Homo sapiens: one gene and its partners. The protein of the gene in region 4 purifies or fractionates together with the protein of the main gene of each other region. This does not show direct contact. Each region holds a gene or a part of one and is shown on either strand. Other genes may lie near its edges. The genes, in order: ATP1A1, HADHA, HADHB and NIPSNAP2.

Evidence for each region.
Region 1: the proteins of NIPSNAP2 (region 4) and ATP1A1 purify together in Homo sapiens (affinity purification with mass spectrometry; 2 studies listed by BioGRID, with this or other methods). This does not show direct contact.
Region 2: the proteins of NIPSNAP2 (region 4) and HADHA purify together in Homo sapiens (affinity purification with mass spectrometry; 3 studies listed by BioGRID and IntAct, with this or other methods). This does not show direct contact.
Region 3: the proteins of NIPSNAP2 (region 4) and HADHB purify together in Homo sapiens (affinity purification with mass spectrometry; 2 studies listed by BioGRID, with this or other methods). This does not show direct contact.

The regions. Positions count from the first base shown.
Region 1 is NC_000001.11:116,397,222-116,404,274, forward strand, and holds part of ATP1A1 (sodium/potassium-transporting ATPase subunit alpha-1), read left to right. Parts: intron 1-666; coding exon 667-817; intron 818-1,399; coding exon 1,400-1,568; intron 1,569-1,708; coding exon 1,709-1,863; exon of another isoform or gene 1,864-2,093; intron 2,094-2,198; coding exon 2,199-2,322; intron 2,323-3,639; coding exon 3,640-3,785; exon of another isoform or gene 3,786-3,908; coding exon 3,909-4,039; intron 4,040-4,332; coding exon 4,333-4,434; intron 4,435-6,662; coding exon 6,663-6,754; intron 6,755-7,053. UniProt on the Homo sapiens protein: This is the catalytic component of the active enzyme, which catalyzes the hydrolysis of ATP coupled with the exchange of sodium and potassium ions across the plasma membrane.
Region 2 is NC_000002.12:26,241,580-26,248,503, reverse strand, and holds the start of HADHA (trifunctional enzyme subunit alpha, mitochondrial precursor), read left to right. Parts: upstream 1-3,871; 5' UTR 3,872-3,907; coding exon 3,908-3,974; intron 3,975-6,924. UniProt on the Homo sapiens protein: Mitochondrial trifunctional enzyme catalyzes the last three of the four reactions of the mitochondrial beta-oxidation pathway.
Region 3 is NC_000002.12:26,247,939-26,254,938, forward strand, and holds part of HADHB (trifunctional enzyme subunit beta, mitochondrial isoform 1 precursor), read left to right. Parts: intron 1-6,308; 5' UTR 6,309-6,316; coding exon 6,317-6,380; intron 6,381-6,491; coding exon 6,492-6,536; intron 6,537-7,000. UniProt on the Homo sapiens protein: Mitochondrial trifunctional enzyme catalyzes the last three of the four reactions of the mitochondrial beta-oxidation pathway.
Region 4 is NC_000007.14:55,960,668-55,967,584, reverse strand, and holds the start of NIPSNAP2 (protein NipSnap homolog 2), read right to left. Parts: upstream 3,001-6,917; 5' UTR 2,976-3,000; coding exon 2,884-2,975; intron 1-2,883. UniProt on the Homo sapiens protein: Protein involved in mitophagy by facilitating recruitment of the autophagy machinery required for clearance of damaged mitochondria.

The DNA of each region.
Region 1 (7,053 bases), on a different chromosome or scaffold from region 4:
AAATTGGTTTTGTTTTAAGGTTTAGGGCCCTTTCACCCTATGTTACGGTTAGAGGAGGGTTTGGTCTTGTATCAGCTCTGCCACTTTCTAAAACTTGGTTATATTTCTTTTTTTCTTTGATGGAGTCTCGCTCTGTCATCCCGGTTGGAGTGCAGTGTCATGATCTTGGCTCACTGCAACCTCCACCTCCTGAGTTCAAGTGATTCTCCTGCCTCAGCCTCCCAAGTAGCTGGGATTACAGGCCCCAACCACCATGCCCGGCTAATTTTTGAATTTTTAGACCACCATTTTGGCAAGCTGGTCTCGAACTCCTGACCTCAAGTGATCCACTCACCTCAGCCTCCCAAAGTGCTGGGATTACAGGCATGAGCCACACACCCAGCTAAAACTTGGTTATATTTCAGCATGTCTAATAAAGATAGGGAAAGGAAGAATACAGACAGGCCTGCCTTAGAGATCATCATGAGCCTCAAATGAGATAAAATATATGAAAATGCTCTGTAACCTGTAAAGTACTGAACACTTAATAGCTTTTATGTGCTGGGGAAAATTCCTTCTTTGTTTTGTTTACAAAGTGATCTGCATAAGAATATCCCCTCTTGAGGTGATGGACACATGCTGGTGATGTGATGCGTGACTTTTTTTTTTTTTTTGTCCTAATTCTAGGGATGCCAAGGCCTGCGTAGTACACGGCAGTGATCTAAAGGACATGACCTCCGAGCAGCTGGATGACATTTTGAAGTACCACACTGAGATAGTGTTTGCCAGGACCTCCCCTCAGCAGAAGCTCATCATTGTGGAAGGCTGCCAAAGACAGGTCAGCCAGCACAAGGATCAGGCTGCTTTGGGCACTATTGGCTTTAGGGATTGGAGTTCCAGTGGAAACAGAGCAACGGTGATGGATGGATGCATACCTCGCTGTATTAGACTCAGTATAAATAGGCCAGTAGGAAGCTCATAGGCATAGAGAGGGTGACTTGTTAATGGTTTAGCAGTGACAGAAGCACTTTAAAGTCCAGGTGTCCACTGTGTCCCAGAGCCTGACCGCTCCGTGGAGTCATCTGATATGGGGTCCTAGTATTTGCAATAGAGATGTGAGTGGTCAGACTACAGGGCGTGCATACAGGAATGGCATTTTCTGGAGTGCCACCCACCAGAGTCATTACTTTGAGTAGCTCTTGTTAATGCTGGGGGCTATGTTTGTTGTCACTTCTCAGTTCTGTTATTTGGTGTAGGGCCTGTGTGAATACTTGCCTGTGACGGTTCTCAGGCTTCATAAATAGTCTCAATAGGAAAGGAGCAGTGTCTGTAATGAGTGCTCAGTGGGGGCATGCATCGCACTATTTCCATCGCTAGGAAAAGTGATTGGTATTAACCCGTTTTCCCTTTTCTGGGGTAGGGTGCTATCGTGGCTGTGACTGGTGACGGTGTGAATGACTCTCCAGCTTTGAAGAAAGCAGACATTGGGGTTGCTATGGGGATTGCTGGCTCAGATGTGTCCAAGCAAGCTGCTGACATGATTCTTCTGGATGACAACTTTGCCTCAATTGTGACTGGAGTAGAGGAAGGTGAGAGCTATTTAAGGTGTACACCAAGATCTTATTCAGATACTGCCCATTAGCATCCATTTCTGTATACTTCTTGGATATGTTCAGTTTCCAGTGTGCTTGTCTCATAAGCTAACAGTAAAAAATCTTGGTTTTCATAGGTCGTCTGATCTTTGATAACTTGAAGAAATCCATTGCTTATACCTTAACCAGTAACATTCCCGAGATCACCCCGTTCCTGATATTTATTATTGCAAACATTCCACTACCACTGGGGACTGTCACCATCCTCTGCATTGACTTGGGCACTGACATGGTGAGTGTCACAACAGTCACAGATCGATAGTAGTGAGGTGTGAGCTGTGTCTTCATTCACTGGCACTATGCTCCCAGCATCCATGAGGCTGGCGTTGGGAAAAGAAATTCTCAGGACCAGTATCCAGTGTGTGTCCCAATCCCGGCTTCACAGAATCAGTATTACCACTCTTCAAGGCAGCAGTTAACATTTGTTTATCAGATGGGAATCTTTATTTTTGTATACTTCACCTAAAAGATTTTTAAATGGGAGGGCAAGAATTTTATAACAAAAGGTTCACAATATTAGCTTCCTTATTTTTAGTAACTAAATTCCTTCTCCCCACCCCTTCCCAGGTTCCTGCCATCTCCCTGGCTTATGAGCAGGCTGAGAGTGACATCATGAAGAGACAGCCCAGAAATCCCAAAACAGACAAACTTGTGAATGAGCGGCTGATCAGCATGGCCTATGGGCAGATTGGTAAGCTGCAGCCTGGAGTGGGAAGCTGGCACATCTAAGGCATCTGAGGTGATGGTGTCCACCTCAGGTTGAGGTTGATTTCAGAGACTGCAAATCCAGGCGACTTTCAGGTCTAGGATGAGCCCTAACGGAGTGAGCCTGTGGAGTTTCTCTGAACTCTCTTCCATGTGAGAATACATCTGTTGCTGTTTGCCCAGTTACCTTTTGTGGAAACTGGTTTTCTATACTGAGCACCTTGGAACTGGGCTCAACTCTGCCTGAGAAATGAGGATGTCCTTCCTCACTGAGCCTTGCGGAACAGGAGGCATGGTTCTAAGGAATTGTGTGTACTGACGCACAGGCTGCTTTCCCTGGAGATACACACTTATCTGTCACTCACTTGGATGGAGTTAGGCATTGGAGAAAGTATATGTGTTTGAGAGTTTGGCTGGTAGGTCACCACCAAAGGGTGATCCTCCATCCACCTCACACTGGACTTCTGCCCCCACAGTGCAGCATGACTAGCTAACAGGTGATCCAGGTGGTGGGCAATCAGCATGCCATTTGTTTTTAAATCCTCTGCCTAGGGTTCCTTCAAGAGAACCTGGCAAAGCCACCATGGATGTCTTATTCTCCTGGATTAATGGGTCACATAACTGTGAACGCTTGGATAAAGAAGAACAGATTAGATAGAATATTGTGGAAATTATGGCAAAGATTCATTAGACAGTTGTTGGCAACAAAGTAATTGGCTGGTGGCCCATCCTGACCTTCTCCAAGGAGGCCTGCTTTTGAGAGGAAGGAAGACTAGGTCTCTGGTGGTTTAGGATGAAACCCTGCCCTGAGGAACTTGGAGCAGCGTGGTTAAATTGGATGCCAGGGGGAGGAGGGTCCTGAAGGTGGGGAGGAGAGTCAGAAAGTGCCACAGTGGCTAGAAAAATGGCAGCATGTAGGAATTTTGAAAGATGGAAAAGAAGTTATCATTTGTCAGAGATTAAAAAGTAGGGAAGTGGATTTCCCCTAAAGGTCATACCCTTAGAAGCAGCTGGTCAAGTAACAGGTGGGCATTTTGAGAGCAAGGCACATGTGTCTTTGTGTAGGCTCCAAAAAGTGACTCAAAAAGCAGAGGGCCCTGAGATTGGAGTGTATGCCTGGGGTCCTCCATCCCATCCCTCATAGCCTGTGAGTGACCAGGCAATTCTTTCCTGTGCTTTTATCAACCAGGGGGAAACACTCCTCCATATGTGCTCTCCCAGGCCTGCTGCAGTAATCAGCTGAAGGCTATACAGGTACCCTTGTGTGTGAGGTTCTAGTAATTGGGTTGTTTTCCCAACTTAGGAATGATCCAGGCCCTGGGAGGCTTCTTTACTTACTTTGTGATTCTGGCTGAGAACGGCTTCCTCCCAATTCACCTGTTGGGCCTCCGAGTGGACTGGGATGACCGCTGGATCAACGATGTGGAAGACAGCTACGGGCAGCAGTGGGTGAGTGGGCACCTCTGACCTGACCAGTGTCAGAGCTCCTCAAGCCCCAGAAGACTGAGGCCACACTGCCACCAGCCATGCAGGTGAAGAGCCAGAGCTCATCTTCTGTCTTCTGCATTTCAGACCTATGAGCAGAGGAAAATCGTGGAGTTCACCTGCCACACAGCCTTCTTCGTCAGTATCGTGGTGGTGCAGTGGGCCGACTTGGTCATCTGTAAGACCAGGAGGAATTCGGTCTTCCAGCAGGGGATGAAGTAAGTAATGAAGGACATGTCAAGGCCTTGGCTCAAAGAAGGGGACTGGTGATTTGTAAACCCTTTGCCAAAAACTAAACATATGACACATATAGCCAGGTTTCTGGAATCTCTAGTTTATAGAGCAAATTTAGGAAGCAAGAAATGTAGCTTTCTAGTTTTTTCATCTGACCTCCAAGTTTTCAAGTACAGCTAATACATAAAGATGTTGATCTGCCATTTTAATGCATAGCATTAGAAGATAAACCTTTATTTGCACCTTTTAAGTTTTTTCTCCCCTACTTTGATTTTAGGAACAAGATCTTGATATTTGGCCTCTTTGAAGAGACAGCCCTGGCTGCTTTCCTTTCCTACTGCCCTGGAATGGGTGTTGCTCTTAGGATGTATCCCCTCAAGTAAGTTGATCCTCTGGTAGCTCCAAAAAGTATGAAATAGTATGTGTGGCTTTTCCCCCCATTACTTGTGGTAATAGTTGTTATTTTCAGAATTTTGAGTGGTATGTACAAAAATTCCTATGGGTTGGAAAACTGTGAAAGCTTGACATGTCAGTAAATCAGACTAACAAATCCTGAGGCTTCCATGATAGCAGCTAGTGTTTAGGATTTGGCCCAAGATAAGATAAAGCCACACAGGCTCTAGCTCCATGGAACTGCTCAACAGCGAACTGCATTGAGCACTCAGGTCTGCCACAGCTGTAGTCCAGTTGTCTTTAGAGGCCAACTGGGGGTATGCTGGAGCGTAGGCGCCCAGGCTCAAATCTTGATTTGCTTGCTTAGTCACTGTCCCATTACAAGTCATCCACCTTTCTGAGACTCTGAATACTCTGCTCTCAAAGAAAGAAGGTTGGAGAAACAGATCTGAGGTCCCTTTTACTTTATAATCAGTCATGGGTAGAGTTGATCAAAGGAAGCATACTGCTAGTCTTTGGCCTTAAACACAGTGAATGACTCTGCATTTCAGATAAACTTGAATTTTCAAAGAGGGTTTATCACAAACTCCGTTAGTTTTTTGCAACATTGAGTATGTTTGGTGATACCTGGTTGAGGTTAAGCAACTGCAACTTGATTAAAACGTGCAAAGCCACAGATTGTGGGACCCATTTACAAGTTCCTTTGAAGCTTTTGATTTAAAGCATTAGTCTCCTTTGAATTCCTGCTGTCCTCATCCTTGCTCAGACCCGTCTGGACCATCTCTCAATCCCCTGTTGCCAGCACTTCCTTCAGCTCATCTTATCCCTAAAGTAACCAAAACCCATCAGCCTCATTCACTTCCTGTGGGTTATGTGCAGACATCGTCTGTGGTGCAAGATGAGACTGGCATCCAGAGTCAGTCTCATTGTCCCAACCTGTCTTTATAGCTTTCTCTTGTACCCCTTACCCATCCAAGCTCATGTTAGGTGAATTCGGCTTTCTTCCTCTGCCTTTGTGTTTGGTAAGATCCTTCCTCCCCACATCCCTCCTTCTGTTCCCTCTTACCCTGCCAATCCTGATAGTCCCTTCAGGGCCGGTTTCCTTGGAGCTTGTCCCTCCAGGGCCTGTGCACTTGCACCTCTTCTCTGGCATTACTTGTTGCTTGTCATTTCACCTCCCTGCTAGGTTTTAATCTAGAAGGCATGGGCCACAGTGTCTTTCTTCTCTGTGCATCCCCAGCTCCCTACACAAAGCTGGTGTACAGCAGGGGCCAGCCATCTCCAAATTGAATTCTGTCAGCTTGGGCCATTATGTATCAAGATGGGGCTTGGAGAGGTCACAGAGCTTTCCAAAAAGGCTGGTGGAAAATTACACTGAAAAGGGGGCATTTCCATCTTCTGGGTCCTTCCCTGGTTTTTTTGCCACCACCAAAGAGATTGTTCTGACAGGTTCTGCCCAATTTTGGAAGGTGGTTCAGTTATTCGGTGACTGAGTCAAATGAGATCATCTCTCTTAGCTGCCTTGTCAGACACACAGGAAGAAGAGGAGACCACCGGAGTCCTGCCCAGGGACAGCCTTTCTCACACCATAGCAGGGAGCTGGTGATCACGGAGGCTGCCTGGAGCCTGTCAGCAGGCTAGAGACTGTGTGGCTCAGCCTCCAGGCCCCTTGGAAGCCTTCGGGCTCAGCTTTTTTCAGTCCCCAGGACCAGGCCTCAGAACACAGAGCTGATATCCCAAATGCTGTTGTCAGAGATCAAATTTGGGGAATGCATAAACTGGTTTTGACCCACACTGGCAGGTCTTTATCTTCAAAATGCTGGGATATTAGGCAGATGGTCTTAAAAAGCTTCTTAAACACTTTAGAAATGAAAGAAAGAAAATGTTCAGTTGCTCTGGGATGGTTAACAGAAAAGTACTCTGCTCATCCTATAAACCAAGTCTTATGAAATCCAAACTGAAGATGAGTAGGGATTCCATTACAAAGTCTGCAGACTGATTTCCTCTGCGTCTCTAGGCCCTGGGCACATGGAGTAGCAATCTGTTTTAAGACATTTTTATTTGTTCTGTTAATGACTCAGTAGTTAACTGTGACTGTACTTGGCTTCTCCTTTCAGGCTGATTATTTCATTGTCACTGGTGATGTGCAATTTCTCTTTCTTTATTTGAACTGTGTTCGTGTGCATATAAATTGGTACCTTACTCTATTTCCAGACCTACCTGGTGGTTCTGTGCCTTCCCCTACTCTCTTCTCATCTTCGTATATGACGAAGTCAGAAAACTCATCATCAGGCGACGCCCTGGCGGTAATTATGGGCATTCTGACTTTGGTTGGAGGAGGAGTGGGAGGGGCTATAGTTCTATTGGTTTTTTGTTTCCCTCAAGGTGTCTAGGCTCCCTCAGTGGTCAGTCTGATTAGCTAAGGTGACTGGACCAGCAAACTGACCATAGTCACATCTTCAGAATGTAGATCTCAGTTACAGTTTGAGGACTGGTCATGTTTTAGACTTTAAAATACAAACCAAGTATGATTTAGTGAAAACTTGTCAGAATCTAAACCATCTTTCCAGGTAACTTGGTATTCCTAAAAACATGTAAATAAGTA
Region 2 (6,924 bases), on a different chromosome or scaffold from region 4:
TGTATAGCATATATAGGTCTCTAGCGTAAAATACTCAAGGTGGGCCAGGGGTGGTGGCTTACGCCACTGAACTCCAGCCTAGGAGACAGAACGAGACTCCGTCTCAAAAAAAAAAAAAGAAATACTCAAGGTGTTCACTATAGCACTGTTTATATTTGTGGAAAACCGTAACTAATCTAAATGCACATCAGTAGGAAACAGTTAAGTAAGTTATAGTATAAACACACCATGGAATACTGTTTGGCAGTTTGGAAAAGAAAATGAAACAAAATGATGTACATGTATATATACTGACATGGAAAAATGTCCATAATATATATTAAATGAAAAAGCAAGCTACAGAACAATGTGTATTAGAAATTAGAATAATAGATTAGAATAACTGGAAAATAGGGAAATGGGTAAGTAAACCCTACTACAACAACCATTTTGTGACAGAAAGAGAGAAAGAGAAAAGAAAGTCCCTGAAGCTATGAGTCTAGACATGGAAGGATAAAGAAAGGCTTTTATTTAATATTCTTCTGTTCTCTTTAATTTTTTTAAAATAAGCATTTTACTTATGCATAATTCTAGTTTTATTTAAAATCTATATATACTGTTGTTCCTCAGTATCCAAGGGGGATTGGTTCCAGAACCCCCCTCAGATACCAAACCTCAAGGATGCTCAAGTCCTTTACATAAAATGGCATAGTATTTATTTGCAAAGAACCTACACACATCCTCATGCATACTCTAAATCATCTCTAGACTACTTACAATACCGAATGCAATGTAAATCTATGTAAATAGTCGTTATGCTGTATCGTTTAGGGAATAATGATGAGAAAAAAAGTCTGTACATGTTCAGGACAAATGAAACCACTGTAGGCCTAACTACATTTTCACTCAGACATTGGTTGAATCTGAGGATGTAGAACTCACAGATACCAAGGGCCGACTGTACATCAATATCTTATATAAATATATACAAATATACAAATGCATTTTAAAAAGTCCAGAAAAATACACATCAAAATGTTAAAAGTAGTTATCTCCGGGTGGTGGAATTACAGATTTTCTTTAGACTTTTCTGTAGTTTCTGAATAAAAAATTACATGGAATATGTATTCCTTCAATAGTTAATAAAAAATAGAGATTTCAAAAGTAAGAGGGACTAAGCAAATTATCCTATAGCAGAGCTGACCTTTCTGTCATTTGCTAAACTTCAGAAAACAGAAATTTTGGTAAAAATATTCAAAGCATGGAAACTCCAGGGTAGGGTAGGGTAGGATCGAGTTGGTTAGGGTAAGCCTGAGTAAGGTGTGAACTATGGAAAGATACACGAAGCTGCAGGCACCTGGGAGCAAGGGAAAGGAAGAAGAGTCTAGGCAAGTAATGAAAACAAAAGCAAGATGGGGTGGCTCTAACAGCTCATTATTACAACTTTGAAACACAACGTAATGGTTAAGAGAACTAAAGCCAGACTATGTCCAAATCCTGATTCACCCTAGCTGTATGACTTTAAGCCAGTTACTTAACCACATAGGACGCGCACGCGCACACACACACACGCACGCACACCCACGTGCACACACCACTTAAAACAGTGCTTGATACACAGTTAGGGGTATACCTGTGTTTGCTATTACCAGTAGAGATGGTGATACAAATGTACTGTTTCCCTCTATATAAACCATTGGACTAAAGTGCTTAGGGATCAAAGAAACATTATAACATTTCTGCCCTGATGGAGCTTAGTTTTGTAGAGAAAGCACAGGGAGCAAAAAAATGGAGCCAAATGAGTGATCTAAATCAGGGATTGGCAAACTACAACACACGGGCCTCTAGCTAAAAATAGTTTTTCACATTTTTAAAGAGTTGTAAGGTCGGGCGTGGTGGCTCACACTTGTAATCCCAGCACTTTGGGGGGCAGAGGTGGGCGAATCACCTAAGGTCAGGAGTTCGGGACCAGGCTGGCTAACATGGTGAAACCCCGTCTCTACTAAAAATACAAAAAATTAGCCCGGCGTGGTGGTGTGCGCTTGTAATCCCAGCTACTCGGGAGCCTGAGGCAGGAGAATCACTTGAACCCGGGAGGAGGCTGCAGTGAGCCAAGATCGCGCCACTGCACTCCAGCCTGGACAACAAGAGCAAAACTGTCTCAAAAAAAAAAAAAAGTTGTAAACAAAACAAAACAAAAGAAACAATATATAACAGAGACCAAAGTGATCCTGCAAATCCTGAACTATTTACTGTCTGGACCTTTAACAACAACAACAAAATTTACCACTTCTGACCTAAATAATAAGTGTTACACGCAGTTAGGTGTTGAAGAAAGCATTACATGGGCAGGAGGCAGGCTCTGAACTGTAAAAACCTTGTAAGATTATCAAGAATCCTTTTTGCAATTTATTCAGAAGTGGTCAGGTCATCCAGTTTCTGCTTAAAGTGCTCACATGATGAGCACTCACTATGCAACTTGAGCTTTAAACAGAAACCTCTCTACTCTGTCTCTATACTCATTTCAGTCTTAACTTCGATGCCCCTTGTTTCCTGTCCTGCAGAGCTGTCAGTCTGGCGAGTAGTGAGACTCAGACTTATGTCTGAATGCTAGGTCTGTCACAGACTAGAAAATGTATATATTCTGAGCTTCCCAAACTTCATCTAGAAAATGCAAATGATAATAATTTGGGGAATGTGAGGACTAAACAAAAAGGTATGAAGGTGACCAGAGCACAGCAGGCTCTCAATGTGACTTCCTTTTGAAATCAATCACTTTATTCCAGGACTCCAGCCCATCATTCCAGCACAAAAACAGCTACCATGCAATGAAGAACTCTTCACTAGGAGTTAGTAGACTTAGGCTCCAGTCTTATTTCTACTACATATGGCCATGGGTAAAATCACTCTCTCTGATTCGTAGGCAGTTTCTTCACCGCTTAAGTGAGCTGAGGTGTGAACGACCAGATAGATAATCATCCAGATCGGAAAACCCCCGAGAGCGCAGGATTATCTGGATAACGGAGCCGGATGGAGGATTGTCTCCGTTCCTCCCACACTCAAGCCCCGAAAGGTCACCTGACCTAGTCTTATTCTTTACAGCAGAAATCGGGCAAACCCATGGCGCCGTCCACAATCTCTATAGCCGCCGACCTGGGTACAGGGGAAGCAGGCGAAACAACACACACTTCTACGCAGACCAGGGTTACATTAAGGCCGACGCCCACACACGCCCACACACACCCACACACACACACACACCCCCACACCCCCAGACTTCGTTAACTTGTGATGATAAATTAGGGCGCAGGTGACACTACTGTCCCGAACTTCAGCTGGAACGCTAGTCCAAGTCACTGTCCTAACTGCAGCTAGCACTGCCGACCTTGTCCGAGGAGTTTCCTTCCGCTCCCTCAACTCCCACTTTCCCAGGGAGGGGAGGGGGCCGGGGGCACCGGCGACAGTTGCGGGGAAGGAAGTGGAATCTCGCCTTTGGGAAAGCCCGGGCGGAGAGCTGAGGGCTCGCCGTCTCACCTTGGCTGACGTCCGCGAGGACTCCCTCTCGGAGCAAGGTTCAGGTCCAAGTACCAAGGCTCTGCGGGACCAAGGGGCGGGTCCTGCCCAGAAAGGGCCCCTCACCCCGCGGGCGGTCAGGGCCGTTCTTGAGGGCTGCCCTCCGGCCGCCTGACTGGAAAACCAGGCACTCCACCCCCTCCTCTCCGGGCCCCCGTCCTCCCCCGGAGAATACGACCTTTCGGCCATGTTAGCCAGGAGCGAGGGGCAGGGCTAAGGGGCCGGCGGCCACTCGGCATCTGGGTTTTAGTCAGGCAGTGCTCCAGGCGCCTGGCTGCCAGGCTACGGGAGAAAAGTCCTCCGCTCGGCCGCACCCGTTAGAGGCGCTCTCCACTGCTGTCCTCTTCAGCTCAAGATGGTGGCCTGCCGGGCGATTGGCATCCTCAGCCGCTTTTCTGCCTTCAGGATCCTCCGCTCCCGAGGTGAGGCCTGGCCGAGGGCATCCCAGACCTCCGGGCAGAACTCCTGCCGGGACTGGGGTGGCCCCGGAGCCGCGTCTCCCTTTCGCTGCCGCCTGCCCCAGCCCGGAGACGCAGCCCTCTGTGGGGATACTGCCCTGGGACCCGGTTTCCCGTGACCTTCTGAAGAGACTGTCACTTCCCCTCTCACGACTCCTGCGGCGATTTCAGGCTTCCTAACTCCCCAACTTTCTGAGTCTGGTGCCACTCGTTCTGTCACCTTTCCGCGGGTCTCTTGCGTCGCACTTCTGGGCTCACGCCCCTCATATTTTCTTGATCCGGAGTTCCAGGAGAATCGGGATCCATTCTGTCGCATCTTTGTGGCTCCACAGCACCTTGCCCCGCAACAAGAGCTGTCTTAAAAACAGCACCTTACCCCGCAACAAGCGCTGTCTTGTATGGGATTAATCAGCCTTGCAGATCACTGCCCCTCCCTGCTCCGTTCCCTCAAAACCATTTTTGTGCTTACTACCCCAATCAAGTAGGGAGCTCAACTCTTGCAGTTTCAGTAATGTCAGTGTGAACGTATAGTATTTTGAATTTCAGCGGGAAGTTCTGCAACTTACTGGAAGACACACTTTAAAAATACGCTAATACCTCTACCTTAAGCAATAAAATGTTAGATCGTTCTGAGAACGATTTGTAATCTGATGATTCCCAGTCAGCCTGTATTAGCTAGTGTTTTTCCTTTTCAAACTGGCAGTGAAAGGGTTAAAGTGGGTGGTTGTAGGAAACGTTGCATTTTCTTTCCATCCCAAATCTGTAAAGTCAAAAGTGGACAACGTTTTATTGCATGTTGTGCTTAATAAGTTACTTAACTAGAAATTTTAACTTTTAATTTAATTTGTAATATGAATTACCTCTCTTCCCTCTTCCGGAACCGCTGAAGTAGTATGCTTTTTTTAGACAAGTAGCTGAAATCCCTTACTGTAAGGGGATTTTTTTAATGATTGAATATTTTTCTGCTCCCTTTTTTCAACAGCTGTTTTTAGTCTCCACAAAACTGTAGCATGTATTTGCCAATTATAACATAAGCACATTATAGAACATTGAAATGCTGTAAGGATTGAGGAAAGAGATGAAAAAAAAACGAATCACCCATTGTCTTACTACTCATATGCTTACCTACGGTTAGCCTTCGGTTATGTTTCCTTACAGGTTTGGTGGTTTTTTTCCCCTATTTTCACAACACTTTTGAAAAGTAACGTGTAATTTTTATCTTACCCCTGCATTGGTTTGAAGGTATTTCTTATGGATCGGCAGCTGATGTCACTCGGAAGTGGTAGCCAGGGCACGTGGTTCTAGTCACTAGCTGTGTTACTTTGGACAAATGCCTTAAACTAAATGGGCTTTATTTTCCTCATCTGCAAAATGAATGATTGAGATGATGGATTTCCTTTGCATGAGAAGTAGCATGACAGAGCAATTAATAAACATTGTTTGGGCCGGGTGCGGTGGCTCACGCCTGTAATCCCAGCACTTTGGGAGGCCCAGGCGGGCGGATCACGAGGTCGGGAGATCGAGACCATCCTGGCTAACACGGTGAAACCCCGTCTCTACTAAAAATACAAGAAATTAGCCGGACGTGTTGGTGGGCGCCTGTAGTCCCAGCTACTCGGGAGGCTGAGGCAGGAGAATGGCGTGAGCCCGGGAGGCGGAGCTTGCAGTGAGCCGAGATCGCGCCACAGCACTCCAGCCTGGTCCTCCGTCTCAAAAACAAACAAACAAACAAAAAAAACATTGTTTGGAGTCTGACTTCTGGGTTTGGACCTGGCTCTGCCTTTTACCCTCTGATGACCTTGGGCAATTAATTTCTGTGTTTGTTTTCTCATTTGTAAAATGGGGAATAATACCACCTTGTGTGATGAAAAGGAGTTATTTTAGATATCAAGCAGTTTTTCATGGAGTAAGCACTCAGTAAATATTATTAACTCCAGCCTGGAAGAAATACGATTGTATATATCTGAGAGTTTTTAAAAGTAATTTGTACATCTTATGTGTGTAATAAAAAGCTACCAACCTAATTTTTCTGTTTTCTGTATAGAAATATATAGACACATAAATATATACTTTGCATTGTGTTTTCACCAGTAAGAAAGTATCATTCGTTGTAGTTACTGATCCCTTAATAGCAATTTATAAATTTTGAAAAAAAGTCTGGAAAGTGAATTTAAAATGACCTGCACCCTTATATTACTATTTAGACTCAATAGATCCTTCACAGTAAAAGTCTGTGCAAGGCTTTGCCAAACATTTAATGAGATTATGACCTTTGCTGGTGGATGATAAAATTCTCTTGAAAGGGGCCAGGCACGGTGGCTCATGCCTATAATCCCAGTATATTGGGAGGCCAAGGCGGGCAGATCACTTGAGGTCTAGCCTGGCCCACATGGTGAAACCCCATCTCTACCAAAAAATACCAGAATTGGCCAGGTGTGGTGGCACACGTCTGTAATCCCAACTACTCGGGAGGCTGAGGTGGGAGAATCGCTTGAACCCAGGAGGTGGAGGTTGCAGTGAGCCAAGATCACACCTGGAGGACAGAATGAGACCATATCTCAAAAAAAAAAAAATTATCTTGAAGGAGACTTGTAATTCTTGAAATTTTAAAGCATTCCTTCTCTACAAGTGCTATAATTCTGAATGTGAATATCAAATGAAAATCACTTCTTGACCAGAGTATGTTGTCTAATTCCCACTCCTATCCTAAATCTAAATTCCTAATTAGGTATTTAGTAGTAAATAGGTATTAGTAGTAAAATAATTTCACAGGAGATGAATTTAGAGGCAAATACCTTAATAGATGGTTTTTTTGTTTGTTTGTTTTTTCGGTTTTTTTTTTGGAGACGGAGTCTCACTGTGTCACCCAGCCTGGAGTGCAATGGTGCGCTCTTGGCTCACTGCAACCTCCGCC
Region 3 (7,000 bases), on a different chromosome or scaffold from region 4:
ATGCATAAGTAAAATGCTTATTTTAAAAAAATTAAAGAGAACAGAAGAATATTAAATAAAAGCCTTTCTTTATCCTTCCATGTCTAGACTCATAGCTTCAGGGACTTTCTTTTCTCTTTCTCTCTTTCTGTCACAAAATGGTTGTTGTAGTAGGGTTTACTTACCCATTTCCCTATTTTCCAGTTATTCTAATCTATTATTCTAATTTCTAATACACATTGTTCTGTAGCTTGCTTTTTCATTTAATATATATTATGGACATTTTTCCATGTCAGTATATATACATGTACATCATTTTGTTTCATTTTCTTTTCCAAACTGCCAAACAGTATTCCATGGTGTGTTTATACTATAACTTACTTAACTGTTTCCTACTGATGTGCATTTAGATTAGTTACGGTTTTCCACAAATATAAACAGTGCTATAGTGAACACCTTGAGTATTTCTTTTTTTTTTTTTGAGACGGAGTCTCGTTCTGTCTCCTAGGCTGGAGTTCAGTGGCGTAAGCCACCACCCCTGGCCCACCTTGAGTATTTTACGCTAGAGACCTATATATGCTATACATACATTTTGAATATTTCTATAGGTTAGAGACCAATAAAAGGCATTATTGGACTCAAAAATTCACATTTTAAATTCTGATCTATAACTACAAAATTGTCATCCCAAAAGGCCTTAGCATTTTACATGTCTTCTAGTGTATGGAAGTGCCTATTTAGTTAGATGCATTCTTACTAGAATTATATATTAACCATATTTTCAATGTTTGCCAATCTGAAAACCACAAAATGATACCTTGCTTTGATTTAAAAAACAACAACAACAACAACAAAAAGGCTGGGCGCAGTGGCTCATGCCTGTAATCCCAGCACTTTGGGAGGCAGAGGCGGGCGGATCACCTGAGGTCAGGAGTTCAAGACCAGCCTGGCCAACATGGTGAAACCCCATCTCTGCTAAAAATACAAAAATTAGACAGGCGTGGTGGCACGTGCCTGGAGTCTCAGCTACTCGGGAGGCTGAGGCAGGAGAATCGCTTGAACCCAGGAGGTGGAGGTTGCAGTGAGCCGAGATCGCGCCATTGCACTCCAACCTGGGGGACAAGAGTGAGACTTTGTCTCAAAAAAAAAAAGAAAATCACAACTTTTTGTTAGTGAGGTTGAACATTATACATTTTGTTTATTTGGCATTTTAATTTCTTCTGTGAATGGCTTGTTTTCTCATTCTTGCTTTTGGTCATGTATCAGGAAGGAGTCTTTCAGTTGCAAATAACAGAAAATTCAAATCAAATTGGCTTCTTAAAGGGGATTTATTAGTCCGGGCGTGGTGGCTCACGCCTGTAATCCTAGCACTTTGGGAGGCTCAGGAGTTCGAGACCAGCCTGATCAACACGGTGAAATCCTGTCTCTACTAAAATAAAAAAAATTAGCCTGGTATGGTGGTGTGCGCCTGTAGTCCCAGTTACTCGGGAGGCTGAGGCAGGAGAATTGCTTGAACCCAGGAGGCAGAGGTTGCAGTGAGCCAAGATCGCGCCGCTGTACTCCAGCCTGGGCGACAGAGTGAGACTCCGTCTCAAAAAAATAAATAAATAAATAAAGGAGATTTATTGGCTCACAGAACTGAAAAGCACAATGAGAGGTTGGGTTTCAGATGGGATTCGGCCAGGACTCTTCTTTTTCCAGAATTCTCAGCTCCGTACTCTTCTGCTTGTTTGGTGTTAGCTCTATCTTAGCCTAGCTTTGTTAATGTTTGCAAATTGCTGTAGCCATGCCAGGCCTCAGAAGGAAAGATTTGTGTTCCAGAATTATAGGCAGAAGACTTGAGTGTTAAACTGATGAAACCATCCACAAATCAATACCAGTGGTCAAGGCAATGCCGTGCATGGTTGTTTGAGGCCTTGGTACCTGAATCAATGATCTTGGCAGAGAGAATGAGATTATTCTGATTGGTTTAAACCCTGGAGTTGGGCTGGATTCAATCCCATGTAAGCCACATACAGCAGCTACATTTGGGTGGAATGGATATTAGAGTACAAACTACAGATTCCATGATAGATTGTTTCTGTTTTTCTTTTTCTTTCTTTTTTTGGAGATGGAGTCTCGCTCTGTCGCCCAGGCTGGAGTGCAATAGTATGATCTTGGCTCACTGCAACCTCCGCCTCCCGGGTTCAAGCGATTTTCCTGCCTCAGTTCCCAAGTAGCTGGCTTACAGGCATGTGCCACCAGGCCTGGCTAATTTTGTATTTTTATTAGAGATGGGCTTTCTCTATGTTGGTCAGGCTGGTCTTGAACTCCCAACCTCAGGTGATCCACCTGCCTGGGCGTCCCAAAATGCTGGGATTATAGGCATGAGCCACTGCGCCTGGCCTTATTTTTCTTATAATTTGTACAAGTTCTTTATGGATTATGGGTATCAACCCTTTTCTGTTTTACATGTTACAAATATTTTCTCTGAATCTATTTGCCTTTTAACTTGATTTTAGTATATTTTACTATGTGTATATTTTGAATGTTTATATGATCAGATCTATTAGTTATTATTTTCTGTTGTACTTCTGGGTTTTGTGCCATATGTTGAAATCCCTTCTCCATCTAAGTGATAAAAATATTCTCTGAGGCTGGATATGGTGGCTCATGCTTGTAATCCCAGCATGTTGGGAGGCCGAGGTAGGAGGATTACTTGAGGCTAGGAGTTTGAGACTAGCCTGTCTCTAAAGTTTTTTTTTTTTTTTTTAATTAGCCAGGCATGGTGGCATGTGCCTGTAGTCTAAGCTACTCAGGAGGCTGAAGCAGGAGGATCCCTTGAGCCCAGGAGTTCCAGATTGCAGTGACCTATGATCATACCACTGCACTACAGCTTGGGCAACAGAGCGAGACCCTGTCTCTAAAAAATACATACACGTGTGTGTATGTATATATTATATTCTCCGATGTTTTCCTCTAGTACTTTTATAGTTAGAATATATATATTTAAAATATATACATTTAAATATTTAATCTGTCTGGCATTTATTTGTGCTTTCGCTGTGAGCTGCGAACCTAAAATTTTTTCCAAATGTTTAGCCATTTTCCCAGTGAATTCATGGAATAATTTCTTTCTCTCAGCTAACTCAAGTGTTATATTTATTATACACTAAATTCTTACATACATGGGTCTGCTTCTGAACTGCTACATCCTGTTTTGTTGATCAGTGTCGTTTATTCCTGTGCTAAAGCTGCTCTGTTTTAATTATTGGTTCTTTCTAGAAAGTGTTTTGTTTGTTTTTTTTTGAGACAGGATCTTACTCTGTTGCCCAGGCTTGAGTACAGTAGCGTGATCATGGCTCACTGCAGCCTCGAACTCCTGGCTCGGGTGCTCCTCCCACCTCAGCCTCTTGAGTAGCTGCGACTACAGGCACATGCCACCATGCCCAGCTAGTTTTTTGTATTTTTTGTAAAGACAGGGTCTCACTAGGTTGCCCAGGCTGGTCTCAAACTCCTGGGCTCAAGTGATCCTCCCACCTCGGCCTCCCAAAGTGCTGGGATTACAGGTGTGAGCCTCTGTGCCTGGCCTAGAAAGTTTTGTTATCTGTTGCAACAAGGTTCCCCCTTTTGTTTTTCAACATTTTCTTGACAATTTTCATGAATTTTATTTCAAGATGAACCTTACGTAAGGGAACTTGTAGCCCAGACCCTTGTGGCATTGTAAGTAGCTTCTGAGTGGTGCCTCTCTCATGGGCCTCTTTGTGTTTCTCTGGCCAGAGTCCTTTGAATATCCCTAGGCTGGTGATCCTAAAGCTTGGGCTTCTCCATCTCTTTCCAATCCACATGTTTGGAACATGTTTTGTTTTTTTCTTTTCGGAAGCTATAGGACCTCCTTCTTTTAGTCTCTAAAGACCCAAGAGAAGTTAAACCTTAAAGCTTTTGTATTATCTATTTCTGTGTAGCCAATTACCGCCAAATGTAGCAGTTTAAAACAATACATGTTTACCATCTCATAGTTTCTGAAGGTCAGGAATCAAGGGCACTTTAGCTGGGTTGCTCTGAGTTTCCCATAAGGTGGCTGTCAGAATGTTGGCAGGGCTGGAGTCAGCTGAAAGCTTGCCTGCGCTAGAGGCTCCGCTTCCAAGCTCACTCACATGGCTGTTGGCAAGAGGCATCAGTTCCTCACCACAGGAGCCTCTTCATAAGGCTGCTCAGGACATGCCACCTGGCTTCTCTCATAGTGGGTGAGCTGAGAGAGAGACCACGACAGATGCTGCAGTATCTCTTATAGCCTATCTCAGAAGTGGCATACCATTACTTGTAACATACTTTTTGGTTTATACATTCTGTGATATGGAGAGGGAGGCAGCTAGACAAGGATGTGAATACCAAGAGGTAGAGATTATTGGGGGGCAACTTGGAGGCTGGCTACCAAAGTCTTTGTTGGTAAATCTTGTGGGATTTTTTTGGTTTTGATTTTTTGTTGTTGTTGTTAAAACATGCTTCAAAATTAAGAAATTATAAAAGGTGTGTGATGACAAGTCTTCCACCCCTGACCCCTAGTTACCCAGTTCCCTTTCTTCCAGCCAACAATTATTTTTAACATCTTTATTATACTTCCAGGGGGATTTTATACTGATACAAGGAAATGTACATAATATTTTTCCTCTTTTAACATGAATGATAGCATGCTGTACAGCTATTTTGCACCTTGCTTTCTTCACTTAATGATACAGCTTAAAATGGTTCCGAATTGGTGCATAATCATTTCCTTACCTTTTACAGCTGCATAGTATTTCACAGGGGTGTTGTAGCATGGTTTACTTACCCATTTTCCTATTTTTTGGTTATTCTAATTTTTGACTATTACAGTAACAATATGGATTATGTCCTGTGTGTGAGTAATATCCATGAAGTCAGTTCATGGAAGTGGAATTGCTGGTTCAAACATTAGTTTCAGTTATAGTTTTCATGGATAATTACCAAATTGCCCTCCCCATGGACTGTGCCAGTTCTCTTGGCAGCAGTATATGAGAATATCTATTTGCACATACTCTTACCTACACAGAGTATATATCAAACCTTTGAATCTTTGCTACTTTGAGAGACAATTATATCTGTGGTTTTAATTTGAATTCTTCTTATGAGTGAAATTGAACATCTTTTCATATACTTAAGAACCATTTGTATTTCCTTTTCTGTGGTCTGTTCATATTCTGTGCCTATTTGTCTGCTAGTGTTTTCCTTAGTAATCTGTAGGAACTCATTGTTAGAAATTTAGTCTTTTTTGGAGGGGTGGGGGAAAGTTGTTAATATATTTTACATATTTTTTAACATATAGGGTTATTATATGTTTTACTTTTTTATTGTTTTGAAACAATACAGTATCAAACTTTGAAAAAGTTGCAAGTGCAGTACTACAAACTTTTTTTAGTAGCAGTTGAGATTAAGTTGCTGACATGATGCTTCACCATCCCTATTTAGTGTATATTCCCTTCAGATACAAACATTCCACAAAGCCTTCTACATAATCATAGTACAGCCTTCAGAATCGTGAAACTAATACTAATGGTTTTATTATCACGCCTAGCAGTCTCTCTGCTTCTTTGACCCTAAAGGAGAGGAGCACACACTCTAGAGGTAGACTTCCTAGGTTCAAATTCCAGCTCTGGGCCTGGTGCGGTAGCTCACGCCTGTAATCCCAGCACTTTGGGAGGCCAAGGCGATGGATCACCTGAGGTCAGGAGTTCGACACCAGCCTGGCCAACATGGCAAAACCCCATGTCTACTAAAAATACAAAAAATTAGCCGGGTGTGGTGGCACGTGCCTGTAATCCCAGCTACTCGGGAGGCTGAGGCAGGAGAATCGACTGAACCTGGGAGGCAAAGATTGCAGTGAACCGAGATTGCACCACTGTACTCCAGCCTGGGCAACAAGAGCAAAACTCCATCTCAAAAAAATAAATAAATAAATAAATAAATAAATAAATAAATAAATAAATAAAAATTCCAGCTCTGCCACTCACTAGTTGTAGGTCTTTTGGCAAGTCACTCAATCCTACTATGCCTCAATTTCCTTATCTCTTACAAAGGATGTAATAATCATGCCTCCTTTGTAGGTCATTGTGAAGATTAGATGGTTAATGCTTAGAATAGTGGTTGCTGCAATGTGAAAACCATGTTGGTGTTCCTATCATAATAATATTATTAGATGAAGAATAGTTGATAAGATTAAGTTTTAATGTTTTCTAGTAGCCATGGATGAGGTTATCAGAGTTCATAGACTACAATGTAAACTACAAATTGTTCAGCTAATCCAGGATATACTTTTGTTCTTCTCTTTTTAGATTCCAGAATGACTATCTTGACTTACCCCTTTAAAAATCTTCCCACTGCATCAAAATGGGCCCTCAGATTTTGTAAGTTTATTATTATTTTTTTATTTTTAGAGATTGGATTTGGATTTATAAACATCTCGCACAGATACTGAATGGTATTGCTTTTTGTAAACAGTTTATTTTGTCTTCCAGCCATAAGACCTCTGAGCTGTTCCTCCCAGCTACGAGCTGCCCCAGGTACAGTAATTTGTAAAATAAATATTTCTGATTTAAATGTTAGATTCCAGATTCTATAGTTTGTGAACTCTGAATAAAAACCAAAACTAATTTGCTAATTCTCCCCTTTTTATGAGCACATGAACATCTCTGTTGCCTTCAAATTAAAAAATTATAGGTCCAATCAATAATGATACTACATTATTTAGGATTAGGCTTGAGGATGTTAATGGGAGGCTGTTTTCTGGGATTTGAACCTGCTGGAGTCATGGAGGTTCCATAAACCTCGTTGGTCAGTTTATTTATCCTCTTGCTGTCCGTCCTGGAGGTGAATGGCATACAAATGCTCTTGAGACCTGCTATGGAACCAAAAGTTAACTTTAAATTTGCAATTTGTGAAATGCTTCTCTATTGATGAATATCTTCTTCTCCCATGTGCAAGAGGGCCCATTCCTGAAATAGAAGTGATTAGGAACTAGTTAATA
Region 4 (6,917 bases):
TGAGGTGGGAAGATCCCTTAAGTCCGGAAGGTCAAGGCTGCAGTGAGCCGTGGTCATGCCATTAAACTCCAGCCTGGGCAACAGGGCAAGACTATCTCCAAGGAAAAAAAAAAATTCTTTAGTCATCCCCTTCACTAACAGGTTCGAGCCCACACTCTTCGTAGGAATCCAGACGAGTATTGCTGAGGGTTGAGCTAGGGCAGTGAAGATGGAGAGGGTGGATTCAAGACATACTAGAGGCAGAACTGACAGATTTGGTAAATGATAGATGGCGGGAAAAAGAGGGATGGGCTTGGGGAAGACCATCTGGTGTCTGGCCTGGGCCACCACATGGAAAATGTTTCATGACTGGAGAAGAACAACCAAAGAAAAGCAGGCTTCACAGAAGGAAGAGGAGTTAAATCCTGGGTACAGCAGTGTTTTAAGCACCTGTGAGACACTTATGCAATGTCCAGGAAGCGGCTGGGAATTCCAAGCTTGCTGCTGAGCAGCACTAAGTGAAATACGCTGGCTAATGTACAGGCAGGGATGAGGCTCCCGGGAGGACGCCCTTCTCCCTTGCTGAAACTGATTCAGCAAATCCTGTTTTCTTCTGTCATTTTACCTAACACTTTGGCAGCGGATGGCACTCCCTCCCTCCTCCTGGCCACTGCCACATAACAATGAGCTTGCCAGCTCCCCCTCCTACATTCAGCCTATATACGCTGCACATCCCAGGACTTGCTTTGCAGCCCCTTCTCTCTCCACACTCTCGCCTCAAGCAATCTCACACATTCCTATATTTTTTTGTTTGTTTTATTTTGGAGACAGGGTCTGGCTCTGTCACCTAGGCTGGAACGCAGTGGCATGATCTCGGCTCACTGCAACCTCCACCTCCCAGGTTCAAGCCATACTCCCACCTCAGCCTACCAAGTAGCTGGGACTACAGGCGTGTGCCACCATGCCGGGCTAATTTTTGTATTTTTTGTAGAGATGTGTTTTGTCATGTTGCCTGGGATGGTCTCGAACTCCTGAGCTCAAGCGATCAGCCCAGCTCGGCCTCCCAAAGTGCTGGGATTACAGCCTGAGCCACTGCACCCGGCTTCCTATGGTTTAAAAAAAGTTTCATTATACAAATTTTTATTTATGTACTTATTTATTATTAGGGACAGAGTTCCACTATGTTGCCCAGGCTGGTCTCAAACTCCTGGGCTCAAGCAATCCTCCTGCCGCAACCTTCCAAAGTGCAGGGATTACAAGTGTGAGTCACTGCGTCCAGGCTTTATTATGAAAAACGTAAATCAAATACGAAACAGTATAATGAAATCCATGTGTCTATTAACATTTAGCATTCCTATATACTGACAACTCCTAAATGTTACCTGTAGCCCAGACACCTCCTTTGAGGAGTCATACTGCCAACTGTCTGTTTGCGTTTCCACTTGAATAGCACACAGCCTTCACAAACTTTACCAGGTCCTAAACTGCTCTGAATTCTTCTTCCCCAGCCCTCCTGAATTACTGGTAAGCTCCGGATGGCCTTGGACGCCTTATTCACTGATGTCTCTCAACAGTCAACAGTGCCTGGCACGTGGTAGGCACTCACATTTTGGCAGAACAGCTCTCTGCAAACTCTCAACTCTCAGTGCCAGGGTCCACTCAGCTGGCCACTACCCTTAATTCTGCCCCCTCTCCCAAGTCAGACTCATCTTTTTAAAAAGATCAGGCCGCGCCTGGTGATTCACGACTGTAATCCCTGCACTTTGGGAGGCCGCGGCAGGTGGATCACCTGAGGTCAGGAGTTCGAGATCAGCCTGACCAACATGGTGAAACCCCGTCTCTACTAAAAATACAAAAATTAGCCGGGTGTGGTGGTGCATGCCTGTAATCCCAGCTACTTGGGAGGATGAGGCAGGAGAATTACTTGAACCCGGGAGGCGGAGGTTGCAGTGAGACAAGATCGTGCCGTTGCACTTCAGCCGGGGCAACGAGAGCAAAACTCCGTCTCAAAAATATAAATAAATAAACAACAACAATAATAATAATAATAAACCATGTTACTGAAACCTCCCTGGCCCATGGCGAGTTTAACACACAGTTCCTTAGGTAATTTAAACTACCCAAAGCAATGAATACGAGAAAGCAACTCTGGGTAAGTCAGGATAGGCTTTGCTGTTTGAATGTGGAAAACAGCACATGCAAATATCAAGGTGATGAATTTGGACAACCAAACGTCCAATCCACTGAAGTTAGAAAAAAAAAAAAGTTTAAACAAGAGCCCCACGCCTGAACTTAGTGCTGATAACTCTAAGTACTTTTAGATCCACGGCCGGCTTTAAATTTCAACTCCAAGACGTTAAGTGATTTGACCTCCTCCAAGCTCTAACTTCCCCTACGCTCCGCGGAGAGCTGGCCCGGGACAATGCTTTACTCTTTTATTCCCTACTCCCGGCACCTCAGAGACCAGGGTCACCAACGTCCTCGGCAGACGCAGCCACTCAGGCTTGGAACAGCCTCCGGCGAGGACCCAGCAGACGGCGTCCGGGGCCTGCGGCCTCAGGCGCGCGCTGTCCCTGTCCCTGGCCACGGGTCGCGCCGGTCAGGGCCCTGCAGGCCGGGCCAGCGCCGCGGGGAGGATGTGGCCTCCGGGCCAAGCCTCGGGGGCCTTCCCGGGCGAGGGTGGAGCCGCAGAGCGGCCCGTCCCCTCCGTGACCTTGAGCCCGAGGACGCCCCGACCCCGCCCCAGCTCCGGCCCCACCCCAGCTCCGGCCCCACTGCCCCGAGGCCGGGCAGCCACCCGCGCTGGGGACAGGGCCGGGGCGGAGACCGGCGCCGGGAAACCCGCGCCCTCCGCCTCGCGGCGGCCCCTCCCCGGCACCTCCCGGGAAGGGCGGCGCTGCTCACCGGAGCCTGGGCAGGAGGCTGCAGGGGGCCGCCCGCTGCAGGAGGCCGCCGGCCCAGGCCGCTCCGCGGGCGCGCAGCACTCGCGCCGCCATCTTGCTCGGCGCCTCGGCTCCCACCGCCCGGGCGCCGCCGCTGACGCCGCCGCCGCGCGACCCCTCCCCCGGCCGGGCCCCAACGCGGCCACTGCAGTGCGGGGCGCGGCCGCCAGGGGGAGCAGGGCGCGCGGCCGCGGGGGTCGGCGGGGCGTCCAGGCGCCAAGGCCCGGCCGCTGCGGGAAAGCGCGAAGCCCAAGCGCAGTCAGTGCAAGCCGATCACTTCAGCGGGAGGAGCTCGGTGCCCAGAAGCGCGGGTGCAGAAGGGACAAGGGCATAACTTCAATGATCAGGGAAAACTCCAAAAGGAAAGAGTAACACTGTGCCTAGGGGAATCCAGGGCCTGGGGCGGGGCAGTGGCAGTGGGTTTACCCCCACCCCACCCCGCCAATGTCTTTTAAATTTTGTAGTATATGAATATATTGTCATTTCAAAAAGCCCCACAACGCTTTAACAAGTGCATTCTGGGGCCGGACGCAATAGCTCACGCCTGTCATCCCAGCACTTTGGGAGGCTGAGGCCGGAGATCTCTTGAGGCCAGGAGTTCGAGACCAACCTGGGCAACATAGCGAGCCCTCACTGTGCAAAAACATTTTTAAATTAGCCGGGCATGGAGGAGCACGTCTGTGATGCCAGCTACACTGGAGACTGAGGCAGAAGGATCGCTTGAGTTCAGGAGGTGGAGGCTGTAGTGAACTATGATCGTGCCACTGCACTCCAGCCTGGGCAAACACACGACGTCCTGTAGCGAAAGAAAGAAAGAGAGAAAGAGAGAGAAAGAAAGGGAGGGAAAGGAAGGAAGGAAGGAGAAAGAAAGGAGGAAGGAAGGGAGGCAGGAGAAAGAAAGGAGGGAAGGAAGGAGAAAGAAAGGAAGGGAGGGAGGCAGGAGAAAGAAAGAAAGAGAGAAAGGAAAAGAAAAGAAAGCAAGTGAGGAAAAAATTAAAAAACACCATACACACACAAAAAAAATTAAGGAGAAAGGACTGGGAAGGTTCTCTTGAGGTCTTGGGACTGCATCGTTCCCATTCATTTCAGCACCGGTGGGCACTGGCCATGGGGAGTCCTTGGTACCTTACCCTCAAGGCCGTCTGGGTCTAGTGGGGACAGAATGTACAATGATGATTGGACCGAGTGTGTTAAGTGTCAAAATGGACAGGTTCATGAGACACGAAAGAGGCACGGAAAGAGAGCATGTAACCGGGGGTGGCTGTGAATTAGAGGATAGATGGGGAGAAAGTTCTCCAAGGAGCTGGCAGGACATATCAGTCCCAGGGGAAGAAGGGAGGGCATCCCTGTCTTGAGGAAATAACTTAAGCAAAGGCGTGGATCTGGGTGGCTGGCGCTATAGAGGGAAAAATGTGTCCTCCAGGAAGATTTTTTAAAAAGCCACAAATGAGCCAGGCACGGTGGCTCACGTCTGTAATCCCAGCACTTCGGGTGGCCGAGGCGGGCGGATCACCTGAGGTCAGGAGTCCGAGACCAGCCTGGCCAATATGGTGAAATCCCATCTCTACAAAAATACAAAAATTAGGCAGGCATGTTGTCGGGTGCCTGTAATCCCAGCTACTCGAGAGGCTGAAGTGGGAGAATTGCTTGAACCTGGGAGGTGGAGGGTGCAGTGAGCCGAGATTGTGCCTCTGCACTCCAGCCTGGGCAACAGAGTGAGACTCCATCTCAAAAAAAAAAAGAAAAGAAAAAGAAAAAAGCCACAAATATAACCATGAAAACTGCAACCAAGGTGAGGGCAGGAGGAAGGAAGCTGGACCCTGGGGGTGGGGGAGAACCTGGGAGAAGTAGGGGCTCTGGCCACCAAAGGGAGCATTTCCAGGCCAGTGCGGGGCTGCAGAGGCAGAGAGGAAAGTGCCCTCAGGACTGGGTTGCTTGGAGGTCATAAGGTGGACAAAAACTGGGAGGTTCCCTGAAGCTGGTAATCTTGGGGGCCAAGGGAGCATCAGGGCTCAAGGGGTGCAGTTTTCTGACTGGGGTAGAATTTGAACACGTTAATATGGCAAGGAGCCACCAGGGAGGACAGAGGTGGACCCTGTGGATGGAGGAGGGCTTTGCCCCAGAGCAGGGAAAGGCACCTGTCCCTTGGAGGCCAGTGGGATGGAGGCCAAGGGACACAAGGATAGGAGGCCAGAGGCTGTGTGGCTGAGGACCTCCTGGCCTCAACTAGTGTATGCTTAGTAAAGCTGTGGAGAACCCTGTAAGAAGTACTTTTTAAGTGGTCCATTTTCAGAAAACAGACAAGTCTGGGCAGTTCCCTTGTGGATGTGACAAGATGCACGGGTACAGACATCTGGGAAGAGTGATAAAACTCACAGAAGTCAGAGGGGAGGGAGAAAAGTGGCAGGGGTGTCTAATCCATAAAAGGAAAGAAAGCTTAGCCATTGGGAAATCGAAACTTCAAGTAGGGAAGAGGACAAGATGTAACCTAATAAGGGGATAATGGAACTTAGGTGATGTCCAGGAAGACTGCAACCCCATATTACTCAGCCTGTGAGGAACTGGGGAGGGACCTGTGCTCTAGGGGATAAATTGTTGAAACTGCACTGGGTGTGCCTGCCCATCACACATCCGATCTTGCAAAACCATTATTAAAAAGTCTTACTTTTGTCCGGGTGCGGTGGCTCATGCCTATAATCCCAGCATTTTGGGGGGCTGAGGCTGGTGGATCACCTGAGGTCAGGAGTTCAAGACCAGCCTGGCCAACATGGTGAAACCCCATCTCTACTAAAAATACAAAAATTAGCCGGGTGTGGTGGCGCATGCCTGTAATCCTAGCTACTCGGGAGGCTGAGGCAGGAAAATCACTTGAACCTGGGAGATGGAGATTCACCTGGGAGGTGATCTCAGCTCAGCAATGAGCTGAGATCGCACTGCTGCACTCCAGCCTCAGTGACAGATCAAGACAGACTCTCAAAAAAAAAAAAAAGTCTCACTTTCACTGTTCTTCATGCCTCTAAGTCCATTCTTTGGGTTTGAATGGGTGAGTGTGTTTCTCACACTCCAAAGAGAGGCAGAAGTGAGCTCTCTCCAGGGTATCAAGGACTTGGCCCAGCCCTACAGAGCAGGAGGCCAGGCCTCTTTAAGGGTGGATGAGCTCCTGTGACTGTCACAAATGCCCCCAATTTCTCAGCTCTGTTTCATGAGACACCTGCTTTTAAATTTATTCTGAAATATAAACTGTAGCTAGACACTTCTTTGCTGACCTTGCTTTTGTGTTTAGTATTAGCCTGCTTAGCCTGCATTGCTTTTCTCCACTATCATTTTGTTGTGGAGTTCCATTCACTCAGGACTTTTTACTGGGGAAAAAGAGGGTACTCTGATTTCACAGCTGTGTGGCTTCAGATATTTGAAGCCATAGAATAAACATAGCAAGTCTTCCTGGAGCATAAGTTTTATACAAAGACTCTCAGGAAAAAGTATGTGTTAAAATATAAACAAGTATCATTTATATGTTAACATTTCAGTGGTACTTAGGTATAATTTATATTTTAATACTTCGATGGTACTTAAGTATCATTTCTATTTTAATACTTGAATGATACTTAGGTATCACTTATATTTTAATGCTTCAATGGTACTTAGGTATCATTCATATTTTAATACTTCAATGGTACTTATACATCATTTATATTTTATTTTATTTTTTATTTTTTTGAGATGGAGTCTCACTCTTGTCACCCAGACTGGAGTGCAGTGGCACGATCTTGGCTGACTGCAACCTCCGCCTCCCAGGTTCAAGCGATTCTCCTTGAGAATCTGCCTCAGTCTCCTGAGTAGCTGGGATTACATGTGTGCACCACCACGCCCCGGCTAACTTTTGTATTTTTAGTAGAAATGGGGTTTCACCGTGTTGGTCAGGCTGGTCTCCAACTCCTGATCTCATGATCCGCCTGCCTCAGCCTCCCAAAGTGCTGGGATTACAGGCGTGAGCCA